2 separate regions of the Homo sapiens genome follow, and region 1 is linked to region 2. A link means that fine-mapping ties the variant in region 2 to the expression of a gene that starts in the linked region. Tissue or cell type: lung. Region 2 holds a variant in brackets; the other region holds the start of a gene. All regions are shown on one strand. Distances are from middle to middle. Region 1 holds the start of KCNK17 (potassium two pore domain channel subfamily K member 17). Region 2 overlaps KIF6 (kinesin family member 6).

Region 1 (8,321 bases), 22 kb after region 2:
CAGCCCACACCTCAGTCAGCCCTGGCCAGTGGAACAGACAGTGGAACAGACACTGGAGTTGGAGTCCAGTCACCTTGCACAGGTCACTTAGCCACTCTGAGTCTTCATTTCCTTTTTCCATGAAATGGGAACAATATCATCTAAGAGTATCATTAGATGAGATGACACAAAAGCATGCTGCCAAAAGCATGGCAACAACTGGTGCCCAGTAACCATCAGCTCCTTCTTCCTCCCCTGCCATGCCACCCCCTACAGGTCATCATGGAAGCCTGGGTGAAAGGTGTGAACCCCAAAGGCAACTCTACCAACCCCAGCAACTGGGACTTTGGCAGCAGTTTCTTCTTTGCAGGCACAGTCGTCACTACCATAGGTAAAGGGCTGGGGTAGAGAAGAGCTTCCCCAAGGCCCCTGTCTTAGTTTGGGCTCCCCAAAAGCAGATGCTGAGACAAGGATGTGGTTTGTCTAGGAGATTATTCAGGAAGCCCAGGGAGGGAGTGGGTAAGTGAAACAGTAGGGAGAAGGTGGCAATGAAATTTGCATTAATTAGCAGATTACTGGCTTGGGTGACTGAGCTCACTTCTCCTTGGGACCCTCTGAGAGGCTAGATAGAGCCCTTCCTCAGAACGGTCCAGCGAGGGACAAGAATGAGGGGCCATTTAGCTACCAACTCCTGCCCTCAAAGGTTGAGAGCTGGTCCCGAGTATATTAGTTCCCCAGCATTTTGAAACTTCCCATAGACCAAGCATACTCCTTTGGCCAGAAGAATCTCTCAGGTAGAGAGAGATGTGCAGAAACTGGGAGCGGGGGTTGATTTGTATACAGGAACTGTCCACCAAAGCTTCAGGTGGTATCTCATGTGTTCTGAGGGAACAGGGCACTGACAGCAGCTGCTACACCCCCTCGGCCAGAAAACTCACTCCATCCCACCCCAAGGAAACCATCAGATCCAGGTCTACCCCATCCATTCAGTTAAGTCCAATTCCACATACTTTCCTTGAACTCAGGTGACATTCCAGGCAGAGTGATGGAGTTGGGGGTGAGAGATACAAACTTGGATCAGACCCAGGCTCAGCCTGCAAGGAACTTCCAGTCCAACAAAGAGGAACATGATAAATACACAAAAAAAAGTAATAGAAAACAAAGTCGATAATTACATAGCAATGACATAAAACACTATGGGGAACCACACCCAGAAGGGAGAAGGAAATCGGCAGTCAGGAGGGCTTCATGGAGGCAGAGTCATTTGAGATGGGCCTTCAAAGATGAGCAGGAGTCCTATAAATAAAAATCATTCCAGCAGAGTTCATGGGAACAGGGGAGCTTCCCCTTCTCACCCCCAGAGGTGGTGACAGACAAACCTCAGCTAGAGTCTGGGGAAGAGGAGCAGAGGGCGTTCTAGAGTCTCCATATTTGCACACGCCCCCCTTCCCTTGCAGGATATGGGAACCTGGCACCCAGCACAGAGGCAGGTCAGGTCTTCTGTGTCTTCTATGCCCTGTTGGGCATCCCGCTTAACGTGATCTTCCTCAACCACCTGGGCACAGGGCTGCGTGCCCATCTGGCCGCCATTGAAAGATGGGAGGACCGTCCCAGGCGCTCCCAGGTATGCCCCCTAACTCCCTTACAGGCCTGCTGTGACAGATCTGTTGCAAGTGGAGTTCCCCAGAAGCCGATGCTGAGATGGAGTTTGGCATGCATGGTGTTAGGGGTAGATGCCTGTGAAAGAGGAAGGGTGAAGGCAGGGTTGGGCAGAGTGGGGAGTTGGATCTCTATGCATGCTCTACAAAGGCTTGGCCCCAAGGAGCTCTACAGCATGTGAGAGCTGTCAGAGTTGTCCCACAGTGGGCGGAACCAGCCAGGTTTTCATACCTGCCTCAATCAGGCACTGGGTGTGGCCTTCCCAGGAAGGGTATGCCCCTAGGCCAGGAGGTTCTCTGCAGCTGAACACCCTGAAGGAGCTGGCAGCTGGCCCACCGTCCTCCTTTAAGTGAGGGATCTCTGTAGCACATCTTCAAGGTCATCACAGAACTCCAACATCCTTTTGTGCAGTAGCAAACAAGCTCTGCAGGCTGCCCAGCATGCCCTCAGTGCCCACCCTTGGCCAGCCACTTGCAAGGCCAGAAATACGCAGACAGTTCAATGATACTTTTCTGTTCCAGATCTGAGTCCCCAGGGAGCCTGTTCAAGTGTGATCCCCAAGTCCAAAGGGGTCTCCAAATCGCTTCTTGACCCACTAACGCAATCCCTCTGCCGAAATCTTTCCCTGGGTGGGACAAGGTCATGCACACATAGATACAACCTCCACCTCGAGGGTCTGCAGTGCAGGAAAGGGTCCTAGCTATGGCCCAGTCCCATTCCCATGTTTACCCCAGACTCCCCCCAACCTCATACAATCCTGGAGACTTTCAAGTGGACTCAGAGGCCAACTCCCTCCCTCCTAGGTACTGCAAGTCCTGGGCCTGGCTCTGTTCCTGACCCTGGGGACGCTGGTCATTCTCATCTTCCCACCCATGGTCTTCAGCCATGTGGAGGGCTGGAGCTTCAGCGAGGGCTTCTACTTTGCTTTCATCACTCTCAGCACCATTGGCTTTGGGGACTATGTTGTTGGTGAGAACAAAACAGTCACATTATCTCAGGGTGGGGGTGCCCACTGGGATTTGGGGGATGGAGAGATGTCAGCTGAGGACAACTATTGAGGATAAGATAGCCCTTGGTCATTCAAGGGAGCCAAACCAATGATTTCTGGGACTACTGTGGATTCTAAGCAACATTCTCAGAAGTTTCTGGTCTAGGACCCATCACCACCCTGCAGAGACCTACCTCAACTGCTGTTCCTTGTTATGAGGAAGAGGGAGAGAGCATCCTGGCTGGTGAGGGTCCCTATGGAAACTGGAGGTGGCTATGCCCTGAGACCCCTGGCATTGATGCCATTCCCTTCCCTGGCAGGCACAGACCCCAGCAAGCATTATATCTCAGTGTATCGGAGCCTGGCAGCCATCTGGATCCTCCTGGGCCTGGCGTGGCTGGCGCTGATCCTCCCACTGGGCCCCCTGCTTCTGCACAGATGCTGCCAGCTCTGGCTGCTCAGTAGGGGCCTCGGCGTCAAGGATGGGGCAGCCTCTGACCCCAGTGGGCTCCCCAGGCCTCAGAAGATCCCCATCTCTGCATGAGGCCCCCGGGGGGGGCCCAGAAACCCCTTTCATCCTCCCCAGTCCCACCCTATCTGCTCTCTGGATTTCCAGCCCTGCTTTCTCCTCTCCCAACCCCCTCACTTCTCAGCCAGGGCTGGTCTCAGGAGCTCTCCCAAGAGAGAAAGGAGACAGGTATATCCAAGAAAGTAACAGAGAGGAGACGTGAGATAGGATTAAAGACATGTGTGGATGGGGAGGTGTACCCTTGTCCCAGAGCCCCTGCCACAGCCTTCCACCCAAAGGTAGTGGCCAGATCTCCACTGCCCTCCCCATGCCCCCTTCCAGGAGACCTTACACAAACAAAGGATGACTTTACTTTTGCCTCATTTGATATGTGCACAGTGCATTTGCCAAGCCCCTACTATGTGCCAGGTGCTGTGCCAGGGTCTGTGCCAGGGTCTGGGGATACAGCAGTGGAAGTGCCTGCCCTTGATGTGCCTTTAGTTGCTAGGCAAGCAAAGAGGCAGCCCCAACACAGTGCCCAAAATGCTATGATGGGAATAGCCCCAGGGTTGATGAGAGCCCATGGGAATGGCTGGCAGGGAGCATCAAAGAGAGGGGAGACCTGGGCAGAGACTTTGGAACAATCTTAGTGAAAAGAGGATCTCTGCCCTCAGGAAGCTCTCAGCCGAGGGGCAGGCGAGCTGCCTCTCAAAGCTCGCCAGCTCCCCTTGCCTAGAAGTCCAGGGCTGTCTGTGAACAAAGCTTAGGACCTCTTGGGTGTCCTACCCACTTTCCTGAACATGGCCTCCCCTGACCCTCACAGGCCACCCCCTTAACTTCATCACTCCCTCTGGGCTCCTGCCTTCTCAAGAGCCTTTCCAAACACCCCATGGGAAGCCAGAGAGCCAGCAGATCCCAGGATCCTTCCAGAAAGTGAGCTCCATGAACGTCTGGCCTCTCTCAGGAATGCATTCTCCAGGTCTGGCCTTTCCCCTGCCAGACTGCAACATCCCTGACCAGGAGAGATTTAGACCACTCCATCCCGGGGCCTGGAAATTTTGGCCTTTGCCTCTCCCATCATCCAACAGCAAGTGGGCTCCTATGTGGCTGGGTTCCTCTGCACAGGTCTGAGGCAAGGCTGTGGAGCCAAGGCGGCTCCAGGCAGGAGACCCAGGAGAGGCTCTACAGCAGCAAGAGGAGTCCAAGTCACACCCCAGGACTTCCCCATATCCAAGAAAGGACTGGGAAGCTGAGGACCCACGGACTCTTCACACAGCCTAGACGCTTCCTCCACTCCAGGTAGAGGGATTTCGGGGGCCTTCTCAGAAGCAAGGAGTGGACAAGCCTCTTGGTTAAGGCTCCTCTTACCTCCCAAGCTCATGGACAAGTGGCAATCAGCTGGGGTCCCTCTTTTGGGGTACAAAGGAAAGGACAGAGGTGTGGGAGACCCAAGGTGGTCTTGAGATTGACAGACAGCAAGTCCTTGGAGATAGCCCCCGAGTCCAAGAACTTAGGCAGGGGCCCCAAGACAATAAAGTTGGTCTCTACTATCTCCTACCTCTGAGTGCGGTTTCCAGAAGTCCCTCCCATTGTTCATTTCAGGAAATGTGAGGGGGCTCTGGGCCCCTTCCCTCAGCGCCTGCGGTCACCCAGCAGCTTCCTCCTTCTCCCTGGCCTAGGCCTAGCAGGTGGGCACCCCGCACACATTTGAGGCGGGGCCAGATGCCCACAGTTCAGAGCCTCTTTTTGTCCCGGGGATTGGATCCCAGGGCTGGGTGGGGCCAGGCTGTCCCATTCCCCAACACTCCTCCTCCCCGGCGAAACCGGGCACCAGCAGGCGTTTGCGAGAGGAGATACGAGCTGGACGCCTGGCCCTTCCCTCCCACCGGGTCCTAGTCCACCGCTCCCGGCGCCGGCTCCCCGCCTCTCCCGCTATGTACCGACCGCGAGCCCGGGCGGCTCCCGAGGGCAGGGTCCGGGGCTGCGCGGTGCCCAGCACCGTGCTCCTGCTGCTCGCCTACCTGGCTTACCTGGCGCTGGGCACCGGCGTGTTCTGGACGCTGGAGGGCCGCGCGGCGCAGGACTCCAGCCGCAGCTTCCAGCGCGACAAGTGGGAGCTGTTGCAGAACTTCACGTGTCTGGACCGCCCGGCGCTGGACTCGCTGATCCGGGTCAGGGGCGAGCGGCGTCGGCCTGGGCGCGGCGGGATGGGGTAGCGGGCCGCGGGGTGTACGGGCCGAGGGCGAGGGGGCCTATTCAGGCCCTGGTCAGGTGTTTCCTGTTCAGGGAAACGTCGGGAACGCAGACGCGGGCACAACGGGGGTGGGCGTTCCTGCGCGGGGACCAGAGGGTTGGGGGACCTCGGAGGAAAAGACCCTCGCCCTAGCGAGAGGACTGCGAGAAGCCGGGCTGAGTCCTACTTGGGGGCGAGAGGGCATGCTGGCCCGGTGAGGAGGCAGATGCCTGGGGACACATCCAAATTTGGGGGCGAGGACGACTACGGCAGGGGGCGCGCGCGTAACCGGCCCCGCCCGGCCTGACCCGGGAAAGGGCGCGTTTGAGCCTGCTTGGGGGTTGGTCGCACCCGCACCCGTGGCAAAGAGCTAAACGCCACACCTGGCCGCTTCCAGAGGGGGAACCCGGGCGCACGTTTGCGAACTGGGAGCTGGGACGGCAGGGGCGCCGGGTCTAAGGATGCGCAGGAGCGAGGGCGCGGCCGTAGGAGCCTGGGGGAAGGCGCGTTTGTCCCGGAGGGTGGGTGGATTGGGCCCGAGGCGTGCTGGTCGGGGCCACCCTCAACGCAGAGAGGGGGCTCGACGTGCGCAGACCCGGGTTCGAGAGGAGGGCGGACGCAGGGCCGCTCTCTGGCTGAACCCGCTTTACTCCGAGTCTTCGGACACAAGGACTGGGCGCGCCGCCGCCGCGCGGCTGCCCAGAAAGGCTGAAGGCAGGGTTCAGGGGAGGACTCAGAGGTAAATCTGAGCAGAGGCTCCTCAAGGGTGGGGCCTAGCAGGGCGGAGGAGGCCGGGGAGGGTTCTAGGGGTGGCGCATCTTAGGACTGAAGCGACGCCAGACTGGCAGCTGCTCGATTTGGCGGAGGCATTGATGTCCTGGGTCCTGGCTTGGTTCCCCACCCCTTCGTCCAAGAGCCCAGAGTCCAGACAGCTGCGCGCCAGCCCAGAATCCCCGTCTTGCAGTCCTGGTGGCTTATCCGTCCAGAGTCTCCAGTCCAAAGCCAATCCCCGGAAGGTGGCAGGGAACCGTGCCAGGGTGGGAAGGGACCCAGCGCGGAGCGGAAGTGGTGTTCTGAACCCTCGGACTAGGCCGATTCGGTGAGGTCAGGAGGTAGCCAGGGCCAGGCCTATCTCTACTAAGGACCTAAAGTGATTCCTCCAGCTCCCCACCTGCGGACTTCTGCAAATACAGCCCGACTGCTGGGTCCTGGTGCTGAGGCTGCCTGCCATTACCCTTGCAAAGGTGGTGAACTTCGACTACAAGCAGCCTGGGCCCAGGGAGATGGCTATGATGGTGATTATAATAACAGTAAATGCCTCTGTGCAGCACTTATCGTGTGCCAAGCACTGTTGCTGGTACTTTACCCGTATTCATTTGTCTCACCTCCCTCACAGGTGGGTACTGTTTTTATCATCCTGTTTCACCCTCACAGGTGGGTACTGTTTTTATCATCCTGTTTCAGAGGTGAAGAAACAGGCTCAGAGAGGTTACATACGAATGCATGGCTACATAGCCAGGAGCTGGAGCTGTTAACCAGCATAAATACTGCCTCAGTGTGGACCTGTGGATGTGGGTGCTTCCCAAGATTCCCAGCCAGGCTGTCATCTCTTTGGGCTTTCCCTTCAACTCCCTCCACCCCCACCTCACCCCCTTCCTCAACACTCCTGTGGCTTCAGCCAACTCCAGGAATAAGGATGTGGTATCCAGCCCAGATCTTTCTGAGCACCAGATGTGGACATGCAACTTCTGAAATTCCTCAAGGCCAAGAGCAAGTGGTCCTCCTCCTCCCAGCCCTGCTTCTCCACCTGTCCTAAATCTCGATTGTCTGCCCCATGTCCACACACCCTCACAATCCTCTGCAACATCTCCTTTACTGCCCATACTAAATAGGGCCAGAGGCCTGGGCTTCTGAATATCTCCTCTCTGTTCCTCCTGGACCACCTGTGCCAGGAGACAGGCCAGGGCCCGTCTATCACTCACTTCTGCAGGAGTCTCTCCCCTCTGGTCAACCCTTTCTATACTGCCAGCTGCCACAGAGCACACAAACCTGATCCTACTTCCCCTTTGCTCAGTGACCTTGGCTGATACCTGCGACTTCATCCCTGGCATGGCAAAGCCAAGCACAGCTTGGCCTCAATCACTTCTTACCAGTCTCCCTAATCTAGGTCCCAGGCAGTCTCACCTCCCACCTTCTGCACTGCTGTCCCATCTACCTAAACATCCTTCCACCAGAAGCAATCCTACCTGACCCTCAAAGGCCCAGCTAAAACATCCCATTCTCCATGAGGCCTCTGCTCCTACCCAAATGAGAATGAACATCCTTCTTCCCCAGAGTCCTACAACATTATATGCCTATATAATGCATATAGGCAATATAGCAACTGCTAACACCATGTGCCAGGTACTAAGTCTACACATAATACCTTATTTAACACAACAACTCTATGAAGTAGGTACTATTTGTATTACCATTATACAGGTAAGGAAACTGAGGCACAGAGAGAAGTTGAGCACCTTGCCCAGGATTGTGTAGCTGCACTTCCTCCTTAATGCCCAAAGTGACATTGACTGCATCATATTAGAGTTAATTAGGTTTATCTATGTACCACTGAGGGCTGGGGTCATGTCTCTTGTGGTCACGTCCCCTAAAAGCACCACACATCACGCCTGGCCTAGTGTTTGTTGCAGGAATGGGAGTGAGCAGGGGAGAAAATGAGTCGCTGGTTTACTAGGACTCCAACCTGACCTAGCCACTGGGTAAAGGGTGGGGAAGGAGCTGTCCCCATGGTAGCTGTCAGTAGCTGTACCTGGTGAGCCCTTGGTGAGAGGGGTAGAGCCTCCTTGCCCTGGTGGGCTGGGATCGAAGAGTAATTGTGAGGGCTGTGTGTGTAGGTTTGTTTGTGTGTGTGTGTGTGTGTGTGTGTGTGTGTGTGTGTGTGTGTGTGTGCATCT
Region 2 (8,321 bases):
CGTGCTGAAACATGCATAGAGAGGGAAACTGATGCTGTGGTGGGAGAGGGGAGCAGAGCTGCAGGAAAAACTTCCTTGAGAAAGTAGAGGGGACAGTGTGTGGGGCACAAGTGGAGGAAGGCTTGGATACGCAGGATATCCTTTGAGCTGAGATATCCCTTCCCCTGTAACAAATCCATAGAAACCAACCATCATTCCTCCCCTCAAGAAGCCTACAAGCAAGCAATATCTTTAAGTTACATTCACTAAGCTTTTGTACATATAAGAGATGTGATCATCTAACTCTCTCCAAACAGAAGAGGCGGAAGTCCAGGTCCCTGTCAGAGTGGTGTCCTCCTGCTAACACTGTCCCCAGGCAGTGCAGAGAGCTGGATTGAAGGGCAGGCACTTTTATTAAAATATGTATGGCAAACTACCATTTATAAATGTTTTCATTTTTATTGTTTCATTTGATGCTCTTAACGCTCCTGTAAGGCATGCAGGGCCAAGATTATGATCCCCTGTGGACAGGTGAGGAAAGGAAACTGAGGCACACAGAGGTTGTATCACTTGCCCAAGGTTACACAGCTGATAAATGGCAGAGCCAGCATAACCCAGGTTTTCTGCTCTCTCCCCACTGGGCCACACTGTCTTGAAAAGCTGCAACTACCAAGATATGCCCACTCTGCTGTCAGGAGTTCTCTCGGCCTCAGGAACAGGAACCAGCATTGACGAGGGGAGTGACCGCAGCCTCTACCCACCCTGCAGCTGGGGAGCTTTGCTCTCCAAATAAACAGCAGCCTGGAAGTAATTCATCAAAGCAAACAAAACTTCCACAGCTCAATTTTTATTCCGAAAGGAAGAATATTCATTCTGGCTTTTCAGTGACCACGGGGCCACAAAGGAAGCCAAAGACAGGTTGACACGGGGTCCCTCTGCCACCAGGTCCCAAAGGGCCAGCAGGCGTGACCTCTCAGACATACAGCAGATGGTTCTGGTCCCACCATGTGGCACTTAATATGCAGCCCACTTATCAGGGCACCCAGGCAAACACACAGGCCGGGGCCCAGGCACCTTCTCAGCCAAAGCAAACACCTCCCTCTCCCTGCCTGGGCTCTCGAATCTTAATTTAGCTCACAGCGCTGCCTTGGTTACTTCAGGAGTGCTCATTAAGGGGAATTTGTGACTGTCAGCTCAGGAGCAGGAGCCCAGAGAGGGCAATTTAACATAAGCCTCGCCAGCTCTTAGGCTTCACCAAGGGCCAGGATGAATCTATTTGATTTAGGATTCATGGAACAGCATGGAATGTTTAAATCCCTGCCAGGGGCAGGCGTGGACAGGTATATAACACCCGTAAGGGGCATCAGTCATCCGTGGAGTCAACTCTGCTGTTTCCAACTGCCAAGGACAGTTTTTATGTCTGAGGAAATGAGGTTAACCCCTTTCTAGAGGGCCTTTTTGTTTTTAATCTTGCTTAATCCCTGAGTTTGGAAGTATTCCCATCTGGAAAGGAACCATGGTGCGACCCCCATAACCACAAGTCTGTCTTCTCCAAGAGGTGTTAGGAAGAGGTCCTGCCTCTCCCAGCCCTCCAGCCCCACTCAGAGAAACCCTCCAGCTCTCTTCTGTGTTCAGAAACCCTCCCAGGGAAAGAGAAAGAGCCCCGAGCTGGGAGGGAAAAGGCGGAAATTCCAAGGCCATCTCTGCTCTGCGTGACACTGGGCAGGTCACCTCCCCAAGCCTCCCTCTCACTGTCTGTCATGTACAGATTCCACCCTTGCCCAGGCTCTGATCCTTTCCCAGATAATCTCCATTAAAGTCCCTTATCAACTCCCAAGCACCAAGGAATTATTAACAGGGAAGTGGCCTCTGTGGTGAGAGCTGGCCCAACACCATGAGGTGTGATTTTGCTTTTTCTTAATGGTACATCTGTAGTGTGCCCTCCTTTCTGGGAGCCCACGGTAATCAAAACCCCAATACAGACAGAGCTTCATCACTTAACTGGGGCCCATAAAGTGAATGAGTTTGAAATGGTGCCTTTTGTGTTGAGGTCTGTGCATGTAAGGAGCTATGTCTTGGGGCAGAGCGTGCTCTCCCCCCTATTCTGTAGCATTTCTTCCCAGGCCCCACCCCACCCACCCCCTGTCATTACTGCATGCAAGTGTGTGAGGGGCTCAGAGACCATCCTGGGTGGGAGATGGCTCAGACTCCATGCTCCCTACCACCGGCAGCGTTCACAATCCTGGCCCAGGCTGCATTTCAACAGTGCAGCAGAAACATCAGAGCCCAGATCTCATCAGCAGCCACGTGCCCACGGGCCCCCAGCTCTTGCCCTGCCAGTCCTTGTACTAGAGAGACAAAAGCAGTGAGTTTCAGCCATGGCCATGCCTCAGAATCACCTGGACCCACCCCAGTGATCCTGACTGAATGGTTCTGGGCTGTGGTCTGGGCACCAGGATGTCTAGAGATTCTCCAGAGATTTCCGTTGTGTAGCAGAGCTGGGAACCACAAGTCCAGAGTGACAGGAACACATGACCATCATAGGCTCGGTGTACTTGTCTTCTTACTTCCCGTTCTAGAATTCAATTCAGACAGATCAGAATGTCTTAAAAATAAGGACCATATTTGTTTAATTAAACAGCAAGGCCTGCCAGAGGTCTTGCACACAGAATTAGAACTGAAAGACCAAGGGCTCACAGCCGTGAATTATTTCCAATCTCTTCCTCCGCACTAGCTGGCCATTCAATGTATCACCAAGAATTACCCTTTCTTCCACAGCAATATCAAGCCAACCAAGCTAACACTCGTCACCCAGTACCAGGTTCCTGTGGCCGAACCTGGAGGGCTGCAGCTGCCTGCTCACCTGTTCCCTGAGCAGCCTCACCCCTCAGGCTCTCTGTCCACTGAAATTTTTTTAAACATTGTATTTATTACTTCATCCAAGAATCTCAGAAATTCTCTCTTGCTCTTACTAAATTAGCCAAACTTTAAGCAAAATAACTGCATATCACTCTTACCAGTTCTCACATTTTAATGTGCTAATGAATCGACAGGTTTTGTCAAACTGTAGATTCTGATCCAGTAAGTCCAGGGTGGACCATGTCTTAGACTCTGCCTTTCTTAACAAGCTCCCTGGAAATGCCAGCACTGCTGGTCCATGGACCACATTTTGTGAAGCAAGAAGCCACCTTGCTTTTTCCAGGTATCTCATCTGCTCCAGCAAAGAGAAATGTTAGGCCCAGAGAACTGACATGACTTGCCCAAAGTCACACCGTGGGTTGGGGACTGTCCTGGCTAGAACGCAAGGGCCCTGGTTCTCAATCCAGAGAACCCTCTCCATGCCCAGCCATGGGAGATGACAGGATAGGGGCCACATGGTCAGGAGGAGCCATCCTGGAATATAATTAATATCTGGAGGAAAAAGCAAGGAGAGAATCTGAGGATTAGGTAGGAGCATCAATGAAAACCATGGGGTTGTCCAGGTGTGGTAGCTCACACCTGTAATCCCAGCACTTTGGGAGGCTGAGGTGAAGGATCACTTAAGCTCAGGAATTTGAGACCAGCCTGGACAACATGGTGAAACCCCATCTCTAGTAAAAATACAAAAATTAGCCAGACGTGGTGGTGGGTGCCTGTAATTCCAGATACTTGGGAGGCTGAGGCAGGAGAATCACTTGAACCCCGGAGGCAGAGGTTGCAGTGAGCCGAGATTGTGCCACTGCACTCCAGCCTGGGTAACAGAGCAAGACTCCGTCCAGAAAGAAAAGAAAGAAAAAGAAAGAAGGAAGGAAGGAAGGAAGAGGGGAAGGGAGGGGAGGCTGGAGGGAGGGAGGGAAAGAAAAGAAAGAAAAAGAAAGAAAGAAAGAAAGAAAGAAAGAAAGAAAGAAAGAAAGAAAGAAAGAAAGAAAGAAAGAAGGAAGGAAAGAAAGAAAAGAAAGAGAAAGGAAGGAAGGAAGGAGGAAAGAAAGAAAGAAAGAGAAGAAAGAAGAAAGAAAGGAAAGAAGGAAAGAAAGGAAAGAGAAAGAAAGAAAGAAAGAAAAAGGAAGGAAGGAAAAGAAAGGAAGGAAGGGAGGGAGGGAGGGAAGAAAGGAAGGAAAGAAGGGGAGAGAAAGAGAGAAAGAATGAAAGAGAAGAAAGAGAAAGAAAAAGAAAGAAAGAAGAGAAAGGGAAGAAAGGGAAGAAAGGGAAGGAAGGGAAGGAAGGAC[A/G]GAAGAAAGGAAGGAAGGAAAAGACAAGACTCCAGCCTCGGTGACAGAGCGAGACTCCATCAAAAAAAAGAAAGAAAGAAAAGGAAAGAAAACGGTGGGGTAGGAAAACAGGCGTCAGTCTCAGCCTAGGGAGATGGAGCTTCTGCAAAGGGCAAAGGGGGCCTCTTCCTTCAGAGCTTGGGGTATAAATGCAGCTCCTGGGAGGCAAGACACAGATGCAGTGCCCAAGACCCAGGGGGAGTGGCTGGTGGCCTCCCCTCCCCCCGATTCAATCCTGGGAAAAGTCAGTGTCTGCATGCACAGCCTAACCAAAAGCATCCTGTCTCCCTTTCAGGTTTGGGAAGCAATTGAATTTCCAGGAAATATCCATCCATGAATTATGCCAGCAAGAATGAAGCACAGATGAAGGCAGCGCCCCTCACTTGCTCTGGCTTCAGAAGTGAACTATGGGCTGCTGGGAGCAACTAGTGACTTTGATTCCCATGGAGGGGACTGTGTTTCTTTAAGGATGCTGACCTGGAGGCCACCGAGAGGCTGGGGCTGGGGCTGACCACAACATCCTTCCTGTGGTTGCTGGAGCTGCTGGCAGGGCCAGGCAAGGCCAGAGTGCTAGGGGCAGGGTGAAGGCTTCAGCTCACTGTTGTAGTGACGTTTTGTGTAGATCTTTATAAGCTTTTGAGAATGTGAAATAGCACCATCAAAATATAATGTCAGAGGATGCTCACACCAGTGGAATGTGGGGGGAATATTTTTATTTTTAACGATTTGCCAGCTCTCTCCCTTGGCCCGTGCTCTGGTTTGGAAGCCCAGAAATGGCCATGACAGGTCCAGGCAGGATGTCCCAGCCACAGGCAAGGCAGTGGAATGCAGGGCATCCTGAAGGCCAATCCTGATCTCCCAGACCACATCTTTCACCATCAGCCTCTTGGCCAGGATGACCTGGAGGCAGTGCCTGAACAGCTGTGTCTCCAGGGAGCCATCTGCCCTGCAGGGTCTAAGGACATCATAGCACCCAGAGAACAGTGGGCAGCTCCCAGGGGCTCTGCTGAGAGCTTGAGAGAGGGCAGTGTGGGTACCTTGGGCCTCACAACCTTCACCCAGCCACTTGGGAGGATTTGGGCTGACACTCCCCACTTCCACAGGGAAAAACATAGCTGCCTGGGGGTCTTGTCTCCATGGGCCCTCTCCATGACAGATCCAAGGGAAGGTGGGCAGCCCTCAAGGAGGTTCTTGAAGAACTGCCCCCTGGGCCAGGGGGTTCCAACCCAGCTGCAGCCAGGGAGGGGCAGCGGAGGGTGAGCAGGAGTGGCACCTGGAAATGAAGCTAACTGGATAAAAGTGCTGGTCCACTGCTCCTGGTGTCTCTGTCCTATAAATACAGGACCTGATGACCCTGGAGGGGAGCAGAGTGGTAATATAGTATAATTGGCTTGATTTTCTTTTTCGTTTTTTAGGACTGGGTAACAGGATCATGCAGGAGAAGATTAAACCATTACATTTCTAAGCTAGGCAGGCCCATCGAGCTCCTCTAATCCACACCCCTATTTTATATAATTAGAAGGCCAGAGTGAAGGGGAGATTCAGCTTGCTGTTCTATGCCACTGACAAATGTCCCCTCTTCAGGGGGCTTCCCCTGACCACTCCATCTCGAGTCACCCCCTAGTTATCCCCTATCCCATTACCATTTTTTCTGCATCACTATCTGACATGTTATCCTTCCGAACTTGCCTATTTTTGAAATACCTGCAACCCCCCATAATACTAAGAGCTCCAATGCAACAGGGACCTGTTTGTCTTGCTCATTGCTGTGTCCCAAGCACAGAGTCGCTGTTCAGTAAACGGTCCTTCAGTTCATGAGTAGACGAGCCAGAACCCAGATGTGTTTCTCAGGCTGGTGTCACTCTGACTTCCCCCAGGCTCTGACTGAATCCCATCGGGACAGGGGCCAGCATCTCTGGTCCACTCCTGGCCCTCACAGTTCAATGGAACATAGTAAGCCCTCTGTAAAGTCTGTAGAACCAGAGGAAGACCAAATTCTGATTCTAGAAGCCTCCCCAAGAGTCCATGGAACACACATGTAACTGCACACACACACACACATACACACACACACTCTCAAGAGCCCTGAAGATGGCATGGCATTTGCCCCAGTCCCCTATGTAGCAGCAGCAGTATTCTTGGCATGCCTTAGTGCCCTCAGCCCTCTAGAGCTGGGTAGAGTCTACTAACTTTTATTTTCTTTTATTTTTACTTTCTTTTATTTATTTTTTGAGATGGGGGGGGTCTCTGTCAGCCAGGCTGGGGTGCAGTGGTGCGACCATACCTCACTAGTCAGCCTCCAACTCCTGGGCTCAAGCCATACTCAGCCTCCAACTCCTGGGCTCAAGCGATCCTCTCACCTCAGCCTCCAAAGTAGCTGGAACTACAGGCATGCACCACCACACCTAGCTCGTTTTAAATTTTTTGTAGAGACAGGGTCTCACTGTGTGGCTCAGGATGGTCTCAAATTCCTGGCCTTAAGCGATGCTCCCGCCTTGGCCTCCCAAAGTGCTGGGATTGCAGGCATGAGCCACATACCCTGCCAGAGTCTTTCAACATTAGATCTCCCACTGAGACATCATCTCCTGGATCCAAAGGCCTTACTGACAGAGATGTGTGGCATGGCCCCATGCGGGGTGTGAACCAGCCTCCTGGGGCAATCACTAAGACAGGAAAGGAAATGAAGACAGAAAAACACACAACATGGGATCTGGGGCCACTGGTGTCCAGAGCATATGCAAAGTGTGTGCAGCAACTGGCCAAGGGGCCTTTTGCTCCGAACATCCCCTAATGGAAGCCCAGCCTTTGATATGGACACATGCTTGACAGCAGTGCACCTTCCCAGAGTTCACTGGCCTCTGCAAATGGGAGAAATTGATGCAATGTTTTGAAAAGACTTTCCAGCAATCCACCTGGGATCAGTGGAGCCACGGATGACAAGAAGTATCTGAGTTCACTCTAGGCCAAAATGTGGGATTTTCAAAAACATTTTCTGGAAAGCAGCCTAGCCAGTGACTCCAGCCCAGTCCCTGCTAGAATTCAACTGGCTCTACCAATCCCTTGACAAGAAGTAGGGTGGACGGAGGTTGGAGGAGGGAAGTTAAAATGTAGCTTGCCCAGATCTTGCTAAAAAGGAGTTTTAGAAAGCAGATAGAGAAATTGTGGTATACTGAATACATCATTTTAATTCTTCACCACCAGTATAGAATTACACATCCAAAGCTTTGTCATGGCCCACTTTGACTAATGTGGTGTTGGCAAACCTGATCCAGGCAGAGGCTTGAATTGTGCTCTCATGGTTGAGCTTGCCTCTTGCTCCAGTGATCTCTCTTGGGATGAACATGCCATGGGTAGCTGCTGCCCCTTCAGCCTGGAACATCCAGAGAGCAGACCTGAGCCCAGTCTACAGCCTGGAGCAGAGCCTCCCAGGCAAGCCCAGCCCAGATCAGCTGAACTATGGCTCACCCAAAGACCTATTGGCATGAGAATATATGCTGCTTGTCATAAACCACTGAGGTTTAGAGTGGTTTGTTATATAGCATTAATTGTAGCAATAGCAGACTGGCACAGAAATTGGAACCCAGAGACAGTATATGACTGGATCTAGGATTTCTCAGTGCAGAGTTCATTGTCTCTCCATGCAGCCTGTGGAAAGGCACTGAGAGCATCCTGTATATGGAAAAGCAGGACCACCACCTACAGCCATGATGAAGCAACAAGGACCTGATTTACCCTCCTGCTTTAAATGACTAAAAATGAGACAAAATCCTCTATACAAACCAATGGTTTTCAGCCATTGGATAACAAGCAATATAGGGTATGATTGATCCGCAAGAGAAGGGAAACAAGTGAGGGGAGCCCTATGATTGCTCCAACTTACTGCCTGCAGTGAGTTTTCAGGCTGCAGCCCAGGAAGGGGGAACCAGGTAGAGCCCAGTGGTTTCCCTGAGTTGAGGAAATGGAGCTGGGAATCCAGGGAGGACAAAGTGGCTTAAATTTGCAAGGCAGAGTCCCAGGGATGAGAGAGAGAGAAGGAGAGAGAGAGGAGAAAAAAGAGAGAGAAAGAGAGAGAGCATGCTCTGGAGATCTTCAGAGGGT

Evidence for each region.
Region 1: KCNK17 starts here. The variant in region 2 is fine-mapped to the expression of KCNK17 in lung (TOPMed, PIP 0.98).

What each region holds. Positions count from the first base shown.
Region 1 is chr6:39,311,068-39,319,388 of GRCh38, reverse strand. It overlaps KCNK17 (potassium two pore domain channel subfamily K member 17), which reads left to right and starts at 4,970. Exons shown (of 5, transcript NM_031460.4): 1 at 4,970-5,305. The coding sequence starts at 5,069. KCNK16 (potassium two pore domain channel subfamily K member 16) reads left to right here. Exons shown (of 5, transcript NM_001135106.2): 2 at 256-370; 3 at 1,437-1,603; 4 at 2,442-2,607; 5 at 2,947-3,218. The coding sequence ends at 3,170. It overlaps LOC105375047 (a long non-coding RNA gene), which reads right to left and starts at 5,433. Exons shown (of 3, transcript XR_926774.3): 1 at 5,165-5,433.
Region 2 is chr6:39,332,746-39,341,066 of GRCh38, reverse strand. KIF6 (kinesin family member 6) reads left to right here. Exons shown (of 23, transcript NM_145027.6): 23 at 4,519-8,321. The coding sequence ends at 4,535. It overlaps LOC105375047 (a long non-coding RNA gene), which reads right to left. Exons shown (of 3, transcript XR_926774.3): 2 at 2,389-2,554. Among named protein-coding and RNA genes, the nearest start is that of KCNK16, 14 kb to the right of the region's middle. RefSeq lists enhancers at 1,047-1,548, 4,825-4,904. The variant A/G (reference allele first, on the strand shown) is at 4,185.